4 separate regions of the Homo sapiens genome follow, and all the other regions are reported to be linked to region 1. Evidence: microRNA targets listed by miRTarBase, many of them from high-throughput screens and not tested one by one. Region 1 holds a microRNA gene; each other region holds the end of a gene's coding sequence. Distances are from middle to middle.

What was found. Region 1 holds the annotated microRNA hsa-miR-548az-3p (AAAAACUGCAAUCACUUUUGC, at 1,893-1,913, shown strand). A microRNA usually pairs through its seed, bases 2 to 8, with sites in the 3' UTR of a target mRNA and lowers its output. Matches are read on the target gene's strand: a 7mer-m8 pairs with bases 2 to 8, a 7mer-A1 pairs with bases 2 to 7 and ends in A, and an 8mer does both.
Region 2: the mRNA of NDRG1 is a reported target of hsa-miR-548az-3p. Seed matches in the 3' UTR shown: 7mer-m8 at 1,814-1,820.
Region 3: the mRNA of NCK1 is a reported target of hsa-miR-548az-3p. Seed matches in the 3' UTR shown: 7mer-m8 at 514-520.
Region 4: miRTarBase lists PCK1 as a target of hsa-miR-548az-3p. Seed matches in the 3' UTR shown: 7mer-A1 at 983-989 and 7mer-m8 at 1,400-1,406.

The regions. Positions count from the first base shown.
Region 1 is chr8:119,323,336-119,326,581 of GRCh38, forward strand. It overlaps MIR548AZ (microRNA 548az), which reads left to right and starts at 1,836; the gene lies at 1,836-1,930.
Region 2 is chr8:133,235,986-133,239,231 of GRCh38, forward strand. NDRG1 (N-myc downstream regulated 1) reads right to left here. Exons shown (of 16, transcript NM_006096.4): 16 at 1,190-3,134. The coding sequence ends at 2,893. Among named protein-coding and RNA genes, the nearest start is that of CCN4, 47 kb to the left of the region's middle.
Region 3 is chr3:136,948,201-136,951,200 of GRCh38, forward strand. It overlaps NCK1 (NCK adaptor protein 1), which reads left to right. Exons shown (of 4, transcript NM_001291999.2): 4 at 59-3,000. The coding sequence ends at 253. All of the region lies in intron 3 of IL20RB-AS1 (IL20RB antisense RNA 1), which reads right to left. Among named protein-coding and RNA genes, the nearest start is that of IL20RB, 8.3 kb to the right of the region's middle.
Region 4 is chr20:57,565,460-57,568,705 of GRCh38, forward strand. It overlaps PCK1 (phosphoenolpyruvate carboxykinase 1), which reads left to right. Exons shown (of 10, transcript NM_002591.4): 10 at 1-2,662. The coding sequence ends at 345. Among named protein-coding and RNA genes, the nearest start is that of PCK1, 6.0 kb to the left of the region's middle. RefSeq lists an enhancer at 3,228-3,246.

The DNA.
Region 1 (3,246 bases):
TCTTCAGTTTAATTAGGTCCCACTTAACAATTTTTGTTTTTGCTGCAATTGCTTTTGGGGACTTGGCCATAAATTCTTTGCCAAGGCTGATGTCAAGAGGGTATTCCCTAGGTTTTCTTCTGGGATTTTTATAGTTTGAGGTCTTACATTAAAATCTTTAACCCATTTGTAGCTGATTTGTGTATATGATGAAAGGGTCCAGTTTCATTCTTCTGCATATGATTAGACAGTTATCCTAGCACCATTTATTGAATACGGAGTCCTTCCCCAATTTATTGTTTTTGTCAGCCTTAGAAGACTGCCTATATTTCTAATTGATTACTCCTAATGGGTTTCAACTTAGCCAGAAGGATATTTCCAAAAATCAGATCAATCTTATTATAACTCTAAACCTGGCATCTGACTTCTCTCAGTGTAGACCAAGTAACAACACCAGACATAAGGAAACAGTGTGTATTAGGTGATTCAACCATAACACCTCACTATCACTAATACAGCATAAGCAAAGACATCCCACTCCTCTACCATCTCCCCCTTCATACTACATAGACATCCACACATGCACACACGTACACACATTCACACCCCCCCACCCACAACATGCACACACCCCTTTACATCATCATCAATACAACAGGCACTGGGAAAAAGATAAAGAGAGGGAGAAAGCCAACAACACATCCAACCCTATCCATATCGACACATAAACCCTGTTCAATACGTATACTATACAGAAGCCCTGCACAAGCTTTTAAAAAAGGAAAGTTTTACTACCCCAAATTAAGACTATTTTTAATCAGAAGTAAATAAAAAGTTATTTGTCAAACTGAGATATCACTGTTTCTTGTTGCCCAGCAGGGAAGGAATTCAACAAAGCAAACCTGGCAACAGTTATTGAAAAAAAAAATAGAATTGTCTTACATTCACAAACCATTAACTTGAAACTTCTTCATCAAAACTTTTATTTGTGCAAAGGCCTAGAGGTAAGAATAATCATGATTTATTCAGAGAAAGAAAGAAAATTTCAGAATGTTTGGAGCAGAGAAAACAAGAGAGAAGGAAAAAAGATGGGATTGAGTGGCTAAATGAAGGCAGTTTATAAATAACCCCCAAAGTATTATTCTAAATGTAATGGGGGATGATATTTAATCAGGATAATGCTATGATCTGACTGGATTTTTGGAACCATCCCTCTGGCTCCAATAGAAACATTTTTGGAAGTAATGAATTCAAAATACGGAAGACCAGAAAGGAAGGTGTTTTGAGACTAAAGACAAAAGATGATTGCCTGAACTATGATAATAACAAAAGATGAAGGTAAGCAAAAAATAAAAGGAGAGCCATTTTATCAAATAGAAACACAAGGCTTGATAACTGATTACATATAAAAAGTAAATGAGAAAAGGGCAAGTCATGGAAAATTATTGGGTATTTGGCTTTTATAATTAGGTAGATGGTGGTAATTTCACTGATAAAAAGGACACTAAAGGGGGATATTTATAGGATTTTATGTGGTGATATCTACTAGGTGACTAACAAATTAGATCTGAAGCTCTGGAGAAATATCTTGGCTGAAGATATAGATTTGAGAATCATGATTGAAATTATATAATTGAATTTGTGAGTATGAAAAATATAATCCTCAAAGAGAGGCTACGTGAAGCAAAAAAATAAAAATTCTATCTAGGCTAGAATCTGGAAGAAAATTCATATACAAGAGATTAGCAGAAAGCAGGGAAATTCAAAACAAACTGGGAAAAAGCAGAGTAATTAGAGAAAGTTTAAAAAATGTAATAATAATAGGGAAAAATATTTCACAAAGTAGGGAATATTCAAGATTGTATTAGGTTGGTGCAAAAGTGATTGTGGTTTTTGCTGTTACTTTTAATGGCAAAAACTGCAATCACTTTTGCACCAACCTAATAAATTTGCTGCACAGAGATCAAGTCAGTTGAGGATCAGTTAAAGAAATTATTGGTGACTCTGGCAAGAGCACTTTCAGTGGTGTAGCATGGGACTGGTCTATCAAAACTGCCATCTTATAATCATTCATATAAAACAACTAACCAATAATAAGAATATGGAAGACAGACTCGGCCTGTGTGCTTTGGCAACTTTAAGTTCCTTTGGTACTGCATATGCTGATCAACAAAGTAAATGATATTGAAGGTGTTGAGAGTATGGATACTATGCAATAAGAAATTACCCACAACACAAATGTACCAGAATTTGATTTGACGTGGAAATTTTACAAAATTTGTTTTGGGATTCAAGCTTGCTCTTTGGAAGAATAGTGAAAGACTTACTTATCATCTCCGGAACTCTAAACTTGCTGATGATCAAGGATGAGACAACCAAAATTATTATCACCATAAAAATATTAGTTAGAAGGATTGCATATCATTCAAAGTGTAGTATTACTACCTAAACATTCACTTTCAAATATATTCAAAATTGACTTGGAGTAAAAATTAATATCCATATATGCTTTATATGTTGCAATTCTTCCCAGAAAATCTTATCTTAGGGTCCATTTCACCATCAATATTTACAATGGCAGAGCTCAAAACAGAATAGCTTGCTCCTCCTTTGATCTAAATTGAAAGTGAGAGTCTACTGTATTGGGATTACACAGGTTTAGTGTATTGACCTCCACTGAGAAGGCTGGGAAATCATTGTGTTGTACAGTAATGTCAAATTATACACTTTGACTTTGAGCATTTTTAATGACAAAATTAAAATAAAATGTGGAAATTTTAATATTTATTCTTTTTTCCCAGAAGTTCATGCCATGAAGTGATATTCATCTTCAACTTCAACTTAGGCTGAATATTGACTTTAACCCTTGGCTAGACATTCAGCTAAAATGTGTAATTTCGTGGACCCTACCCAACAGTGTTTCATGGGCTTTTTTAGAAGGGTCTGCAATGTAGCATGCTTGCACAACAGTAAGTAATCAAAAAGCAAGATTCTTGACAAGAAAGTTAATGTGTTTAATTAACATATTAAGCAATCTACAGTAGCCTGAAATGTGTTAATGAAAATCATCTGGGGGAAAAATAAAAGGAAGCCCAGAAAAAGTCCATATGCCTAGCTGATGTGCTAGTTAATTCTACTCAAGGAAGGTTTTCTGTGAAGATTAGTGTAGCAAGAAACAAATCCCTCTGAATTCATGACACGATGCATGCCAAAAGAATAAGGAATTTGGGATTATAAAAATGCCTTATGGTGTGGTTATAGGTACAG
Region 2 (3,246 bases), 14 Mb from region 1:
CTGAGAAACTGTTACAAACCAGAGGAAGCTGAGACATGATGACAAAATGTAATGGGGTGTCCCAGATGGGATCCTGGACAGAGAGAGGACATTAGGGGAACCCCAGTGAATTCTCAATATGGTCCAGGGCTTAGTTAACAGCAACGTCCAACTGATCTCCCGGTTGTGACAAGTATGCAGTAACGTCAGATATTAGTGACAGGGGTCACTAAGTACAGGCTATATGGCAACTCTCTGTATTGTTTGCAACTGTCTGTATATTTTAAACTAATCTTAGTTTAAATAAGAGGTTACACTAAAATCTCTTTTTTTTAATGTAGAGTAGAAAACAAGCATTACAATGGTTGTCACTGGGCATGAGAAAAGGAATGATCTTTCCACATACATTTGTTTGTAATCCAAACAAAATGTAGCCTGGGTACGGTGACTCATGCCTGTAATCCCAGCACTCTGGGAGGCCTAGGTGGACGGATCACTTGAGGTCAGGAGTTCGAGACCAGCCTGGCCATGGCAAAAACCCCATCTCTACTAAAAATAAAAATAAAAATAAATTATCTGGGCATGGTGGCGCATGCCTGTAATCCCAGCTACTCAGCAGGCTAAGGCACGAGAACTGCTTGAACCTGGGAGGCGGAGGTTGCAATTAGCGAAGATTGTGCCACTGCACTTGAGCCTGGGTGACAAAGTGAGACTACGTTTCAAAAAATAAAAATAAATATTAAAAATAAAAAAGCTGTTTTCCTCGAATTATAGGTTGGAAAGTTTTTTATCCTCATCATTGTGCTGCCCAAGCTACTGGGCAATTGAAATGCAGCTGGTCTGAATGCATTGCGAGTGTGAAACACACTAGAGTTCCTAGAATGAAAAAAGAATGCAAAATACCTGGTCAATAGTTTTTATAGAAGTGGTAATATTTTAGACGTCTTGAGATAAATGAAATGTATTATTAAAATTAATTTCATCTGTTTCTTTCCACTTTTGAAAATGTGGCCACTGGGAAATTAGAATTAACATATGAGCTGACTTAAATTTCTGCTGGACGTGATGCTCCGAGGAAAGAATTCCAGAGATGAGGGGCTGGGGTCCCCTAGGTGTCAAGGACGGGCAACCCCCCAGTGAAACAGCCATCCCTGCACTGCAATGTTTCACACACACAATCTCTCAGGGACAGAAAAAAGACACAAGCCGCTGCAAAGTTACAAATTTATTGGTCTGGAAATAAATACAAATATCTCATTAAGAAACTCCTCTGGAAAGACTTGTGCACAATAGTTTCCCATCCGTACTCAGCCTCTCTTGCCCCGATCCCCGACTTTTCTACTCAAGGCCAGGGAAGGCCTCCAAGGTGATGGGCGGCAGGTAACGAGTCATTGCCTCTCACGCCACCTGGAAGGCTGGACTACTTCCTCCTCCCAACTGCGGGGTCCCAGAAATCCTCGGGTCCCAGTGGCTGACTTACAATATTCAATTCACTCTGACCAAACTTCCTATGAGAAAATCCACGGTGAGCCAAAATGAAAAGTACAAGGCAGTAGTACAGGAACCTGGCAGCCGCACTGGCCGCCCAGAAACGTCAGTGGTGCTGCCCCATTCGGCGAAAGGTTAGGGAGCAGGAAAAGAGGAAGCAGGAGAGGGAAGGAAAGTCCCATGGAATATGTATTCCAGAATCCTTACATTTTCTCAGCCACCGCTCCCCACGTGAGTTCCCACCCCCACCCCGACAAGAGCAAAGAGTTCTGAGGATCCAAGAACGTGACCGGGTCAGACAGGTTCAGCTACTGAGTTCACGTTCCAGCCCAGCTGTCGAAGATTGAAAACTGGATTTAAGCCAATCACACAAAATTCCTGGAACCAAGCTGGGATCCACAGAAATCACAACTGCACTGGATCTCAACACAACAACAAGGAATCCCTTACATCGAGTAACCCCAATTCCACCCCCACCCCAGTGCTCCTACTCCGGCCCCTGCAAGGACACTCATCACAGCCAGGGCAGCTGTGGAATGTTGCCCTCCATTCTAAGGAATGCAAAACAAATCTAAATGATCTTCTCCCTGAACAAGAATAATCACTGGCTCATGTATCAGGGGTGGGAGGTTGGGGCTGTGGAGGAGAGGCAGAAAGCAGAACTAAAGCCTTCAAAAACCATGATGCCCAACGTTTGCTGAAATATTTTTGTCTGTAAAGCCAGGAGATTTTGTCGCCTGCTTTTGCTGCACATTAAGAGGATGCTAGAAAAATCAAGCTTGTTTGCTTCTGCATTCAAAGCTTTCTAGATGCACCAACTTTAAAAATCGGTTTCTTCAAGTTAACTACGTAGATTTGTTGTTCCAAATGCCTCTAGCCTCGACATGAATCCCACCTTTTCCCCCTTCCTGTTTTGCCTGTTTAAAAGAGGTGCCTGCATGTCACTATTACCCCCCTCCCCAAATGAGAAAAGGATTTTGTTTCCGGAAACTGGATCAGCTTCTCCTCAGTTAAAGAGGAAACGGGAAGTGGGCGGCTGGCCTTCTGACCAGGCACCCGTTTGAACCAGGATGCTCAGGGCGGCCTAGGCTTGGCTTTGTGAAGTGTGTGCTGCTACGCGTCTTGTTTTTGGCAGTTTGGTGTCTCTGAGGGAGGGGAGGAGAGTGGCAACCGGCCACTGGTTAATGGAAGAGGATGCGATGCGGAGATGCTTGCTTCCTTCCTTTGGTCCACCGCCACCCCGCCTTTGGAGAGGGCACCCACGTAATAGACCTCATTTGTCTCCACCAGAGCTCACTCTTACAAAATAAGCTTTGGATTAATACCGAGTTAGGCGCAGTATGGCAGGCAGGGGGCGAAAAGGGGCCGGGGAGGAGGGGGCCACTACAGAGATCAGAGTCCGGGGGCGGCAGCTGGGCAGGCCGCCTAGCAGGAGACCTCCATGGACTTGGGCCCGGCGCTGTTCCCAGCAGCACCCGAGTTGGGGGTGATGTCCAGGTGGGCCCCCTCGCTGGTGTGCGAGCGGCTGCGGGTGCCCTCGCTGGTGTGGGAGCGGCTTCGGGTGCCCTCGCTGGTGTGGGAGCGGCTGCGGGTGCCATCCAGAGAAGTGACGCTGGAACCAGAGGCTGTGCGGGACCGCATCAGGCGGGTCATGCTAGCCGAGGGCACTAGGGGAACAAGAGACAGCCGGTTAGAGGGCAGGAGACTGCCAGGTGAGGAGCCAGGCATGCCCGTCCACCAGCCACATGCTCTTCTACGTGCCAGCCCCAGAGAAGACTT
Region 3 (3,000 bases), not on the chromosome of region 1:
AATACTGATAGAGGGCTTTCAAAATGTTTACTATATGTATCTTTTTTTTCTCTTTTAGCCAAATGATTTCTCAGTATCACTAAAAGCACAAGGGAAAAACAAGCATTTTAAAGTCCAACTAAAAGAGACTGTCTACTGCATTGGGCAGCGTAAATTCAGCACCATGGAAGAACTTGTAGAACATTACAAAAAGGCACCAATTTTTACAAGTGAACAAGGAGAAAAATTATATCTTGTCAAGCATTTATCATGATACTGCTGACCAGAAGTGACTGCTGTGTAGCTGTAATTTGTCATGTAATTGAAGACTGAGAAAATGTTGGGTCCAGTCGTGCTTGATTGGAAATTGTTGTTTCTAAATCTATATGAGAATTGACAATAAGTATTTTTATTATAACTCAGCCCATACATATATACTATGTATGCAGTGCATCTGCATAGAACAGTTCCTTATCCTTGGCCTTCTGTTTTATTGTTTTTTTCTTTGCTGTTTTCCCTTTGCTTCTAATATTACAGTTTTGTATTTTGTAAACAAAAATCAAATAATGCATATCAGAATCTTTATATGGAAGAAATCCTTTATTGCCTTTCCTTTGTTTCCTTGTAAAGGCACCCTGTTCTGTTATGGTTTTTCATTATATAAAATTATTATATCTATATATGACATATGCTAAAATTTCTTGGAGAGTGTTAATCTTTTCTGTGACTAAATAGCAATAATAAGTGGAAAATTAGAAATTATTTCCAGGTATTATATTTGTCACAGGCCATTGTAAATACCAAGTATATTGTGTCTGCCATAATTTTTAAAAATACATTCATTGTCTTCAGTCATACAGCAAGACACATGAGACATAGATTAGAAAACATGTTGTACAATTTTAATTTACAACTGTTGGAAATAAAAATCACTTAATTTTTTTCCAGTGCTTCTCCCTCATCTGGTTATTCAAGAAAACAAAACAGTCTCTGAGATATTTAGCTTTTCAAACTGTAAATAGATGCTCTAGTGTTATTTATTTTTTTAATCCCACTTGTATTATTTTACCTCTAGAGCATCTTGTATTAGGACATGTTATATTTATGCCAGTGGGAAATAAGTTATGGCCAAGTTTTGCAAAAACAGGAAGCAGTGAGATACTTGTTTTTTTCTCCTCACTAAATATCAGTAATTGTCAGGAATGGTATTACCTATTTTCATTTCCTCTTTTCAGCTTTAAGTTTTGTTGATTGGGACACTAAAACTGATGTATACCTGAGGAAAAAATAGAATGTGCTCATGGTTAGGGAAAATTATATTATTTTTAATTTTTTAATTTGTTTTTTAACCAAGTAGGAATTTGGGTGTATGGATAAGAGGCCAATCTGCTTCTGTAGGCTATAGAAGAAAACCAGTTGTATTTTATGGTCATAATTTGTCCCCCTATTATTCTGGAGATTTAAATTTAAGTAAAGTAGCCATCAGTATTTTAATTGAAAAATACTAAAGCCACATAACTGAGTAGGATGTCGTATGATACTTTCAACAAATTCCCTAATGCTGCCTAAGCATATGGATGTTTTAATTCTTTGCTGTTATAAATAGATATCTAATACGCCAGAATTACTGATGGTAAAATTGAAGTTGTGTAACTTGTGAATTTTTTTTATCAATGTTTTAAATATTATTTAAATCTTAAAATCATTTAAAGACTTATGTTGCCACTGGGTGGCAGCCATGGCTTCTCCCACTAAGCAACAGAAGTGACCAAATATAATTAAGACAAATTTTCATCTCTATTACATCTGCTTTTAAAACATTTTAGTTCATATTCTATTATTTTTCTAACTCAGTACTCCTTTGTTGAGGGTAATTATTAGTAGTTAAGTTTTTAATGGAAATAAAAATCATGTATGCTTATCTTTGCTGTAAAATCAAATGAATATAAATTGAGGAAAACTTTAAATTGTTGTAGGATGACTAGTAGTAAACATCATCTTAATTTTTAACATATATTTGATGATGCTTTCCTTTTCTCTGTATGTTTCTGGGTTTTCCCCCAGTCTTCCTTATGAAAAAAATGTATGTTTGTAAAAAGAGAACAATTAATGCTTTGCATCACAGACATAAACTATTCATAGTAAACTGCACTGAGCTGATATTAATAGAGCAGACTTTTGAGAAAGTAGGAGTGTAGTAGCACTGGAAACAGAATGCAAATTTCTGTTCCATAATTAGGTTTATTGTAGCTATAGCGCTCCCAGATAACCCATGTGTGCTAGTAATATCTATTGTGTGCTCTTACTATGGTATAAAAACCTCGCTGGAAGCTACTTATTTTGTACTTAAATATTTTACCAATTTTTAAAAAGTCTTAATCCAATGCTTATACCAGTGACTGTTTTTATAATACTTGAAGTAACTTTAAGAACTGAAACAACCCTGGAAAACTCTACATAGCTAGATAGTAACAATACTTGTATAAGAAACCAAGTTTCCTTATTCCCAGCCTGGTGTCTGTATCGTGACACACTACTCTGTGTATGCTTGGTTTTAGACTAGGAGGAGAGTCCTGGGAAGGGCAATATTACAGAAGTTTTCTTCCACATGAGGAGAATGCTTAGTTTCAAATTTAAATACATGTGTCAGATGGAACCCTGCCTAACTCACTTCTACAAATAACTTCCCCAAAATCTTAGAAGGTTTTTTAGAACATGATATAAGCTTTGTGACAAAAACAAATGCCATTGTGTCCCTTATTTAGTCATAAAACCTTAGGATTCAGCTGAATATATATTCACACATGTATATTACACATATATCACTATACAGTTAACACATGCACCTTGCACTATTAGTGACAAATAATACTGCTAAACAAAATAGGCTTCATGCAATCTATTGCCATTGCTAGAAGAATAAATAGGCCTAGCAGATGGGCAACTTGGGTTGTTAGAATAAGGTCATTCTTGCAGAATATGGCACTTAAATTATCTCCAGCTGTAATGTCCTACCATATA
Region 4 (3,246 bases), not on the chromosome of region 1:
CCCAAGATCTTCCATGTCAACTGGTTCCGGAAGGACAAGGAAGGCAAATTCCTCTGGCCAGGCTTTGGAGAGAACTCCAGGGTGCTGGAGTGGATGTTCAACCGGATCGATGGAAAAGCCAGCACCAAGCTCACGCCCATAGGCTACATCCCCAAGGAGGATGCCCTGAACCTGAAAGGCCTGGGGCACATCAACATGATGGAGCTTTTCAGCATCTCCAAGGAATTCTGGGAGAAGGAGGTGGAAGACATCGAGAAGTATCTGGAGGATCAAGTCAATGCCGACCTCCCCTGTGAAATCGAGAGAGAGATCCTTGCCTTGAAGCAAAGAATAAGCCAGATGTAATCAGGGCCTGAGTGCTTTACCTTTAAAATCATTCCCTTTCCCATCCATAAGGTGCAGTAGGAGCAAGAGAGGGCAAGTGTTCCCAAATTGACGCCACCATAATAATCATCACCACACCGTGAGCAGATCTGAAAGGCACACTTTGATTTTTTTAAGGATAAGAACCACAGAACACTGGGTAGTAGCTAATGAAATTGAGAAGGGAAATCTTAGCATGCCTCCAAAAATTCACATCCAATGCATAGTTTGTTCAAATTTAAGGTTACTCAGGCATTGATCTTTTCAGTGTTTTTTCACTTTAGCTATGTGGATTAGCTAGAATGCACACCAAAAAAATACTTGAGCTGTATATATATATGTGTGTGTGTGTGTGTGTGTGTGTGTGTGTGTGTGCATGTATGTGCACATGTGTCTGTGTGGTATATTTGTGTATGTGTATTTGTATGTACTGTTATTGAAAATATATTTAATACCTTTGGAAAAATCTTGGGCAAGATGACCTACTAGTTTTCCTTGAAAAAAAGTTGCTTTGTTATTAATATTGTGCTTAAATTATTTTTATACACCATTGTTCCTTACCTTTACATAATTGCAATATTTCCCCCTTACTACTTCTTGGAAAAAAATTACAAAATGAAGTTTTATAGAAAAGATGGATTTGCTTTGCTTGGTTTTTCTTATTTGAGCTACCAAGAGGAGAGAACTCTGATTAAATATCTTGTGATTTAAATCCTGCCCCCTCCCCAAGAAGGTGGGGACGTTCAGAATCACACTTGAAGAGGGGGTGCATTGCCTGGTCCCAGGGAGAAGGAGGGAGCAGATGGGGAGGAATGAGGCAGGGAACCATGGTTGGGGTTTTCTGAATTTGCTGAAGCCACTAGTTGGCATCCTTTAACAATTCTACAAACCTTTAGATGGTGAGGCTTATGTGGCAGGACTGGGAGGGTTTAATGCATGCTTTTTGACAGTTTGGATCTGGAGGGGTCTCAGGCTTCCACAAAAATTACATTGTGGACAGTTTCATAGGATTTTGCCTTTTAACTCTTCAAAGCAACAGTTTTCTCAACTGTCATCCCCGCGGGGGAGCAGAGGAAGACAAGTGAGAAGGAAAAGGGGACAGGATCTGGGTTGAGCAAGCATTAATTGAGCGCCTTCTGTATCCCGGACATCATGCCAACACCATGGGCTGCCCGAGAAGAGAGGTGGGTGGTTTGGTCCCCAGCTCTGCCTTGAACCCTCACCTGCTCTCCTCTACTCCCAGTGTTTATTGGATATTCCAGAACAGTCCAAACGAACCATAAACTTTATATCACAGATTCAATCTGTGTAAATACTATTATCTTCAAGTTGTAGTTTCTTTCTTGGGCCCAGGCTGTGAAATTGGCTTCACCCCTACCACACCCCAGCGGGCAGGCTTGTTCTTATGTCACACTCCACCCCTCCAGTCTCCTCAACTGGAAAACTTGCCTCTTTTCCTCACTTCCTCTGCTCCTTACAATGGCTTCATATGGAAGGTGAAGCTGAGATCACCCCAATTTTACAGGTGAGGAAACTGAGGTCAAGCTAGGAGCGTCCAGCGGGGCTGAGAAATTGCCAGGATTTCCTTCCCCATTAAGGAGCTGAGAGTCTTAGCTCCAGACACGTTGGCTTGTTAGAATATCAAAACCACCGAAGGGGAAAAACCACTTACTGGAATTAAATGCTATCTGCTGTATTAGTTTAAATCAGTGGCGTTCAAACTTGTTTCTCCTTTTCACTGCGGAACACGTTCTTGACATGTACTTGACTCAGAGTCCCATGTCTAAAGGAGACAGAGCCCAAGGCAGCCCACCTGAAGCTGGGGAGGGAGTCCAAAGTGCAAGCCACCTGGTCTCCATTTCCCCGCCCCTTGGGGGCCTTTGGGCAGCTCCTTGGACCCCTGAAAGAGGCCACCAGGATAAACTTTGTTAAAATGCATGCCTTGTGCCCCACTGTCCTATTACGGGCTTTCAGTAGTCTCCACTCCCTCGGCAGGCAAAGACACTGGCCATCTCCAAATTCCCTCCCCTCCTGCACAGCATCAGCCACCTGGCAAGCAGTCTCACATAGGACCATTTGCCAGCAGGCCCTGCAAGCCTGGGGGACAGCCTAGAGGAGGTGACTTACATACACAGCATAAGAGTTTTCAGGAGACCAAAAAGATTCAATATATGTCATTAACTCCTGACTCAGTTTCCCCAAACCATGCCTCCTGAGTGCTCCCTCTGTCTCCAAATCCTGATTTTTGTGCGCGGACCCCTGTCTACAATAAACAGGATCCTATGACTTCTTTCTTCAATGTTCTCTTGTCGTGCCTTCAGATGATGCAAAGTATGTAAGCTAAGCCCACTTGCAGGAAGCTCACAGAAGGCAAGAGGCTCATCACTTGAAAATACGGTTGGAGTGAGATGGAAAGCCCAGAGTCTCCTGATTCCTGGTCTACCACTGGACCACATGACTCCAAAACCAACACTGTGACTGACGTCCTCTACTGGAGTCCAGTGTAAGAGCTGTCCCCTGACCTCCAGGAAGCTGTGTTGCAGTCTGGGTTAAAGACCAGAAAACAATAGTTACACAGCAAATGTTGAACCAGGACAACAAACCTGCCCTTATTCCCAGTCGAGTCACTTAGGGGGCACTGACAGGTAGGCAGGCGGGGTGGCTAGGTGGGGCCGGGGCACACTTGGGAGTCAGGAGTTACAGGGCTCTTTCTCTTCTCTCCCTCTCCCTGGGGACCCACCCTAACCTGGACACCCCCGGGCTGCTCACTCGGCCCTCTGGATGCCAACAGCATGCACCTTCCAGAGTGCACGGTTTTGGCTGTAAGACCGCAGGTCATGGGCCCTGTTGAGCTCCCTTGACCTGCAGCCCTGCCAGAGGGCA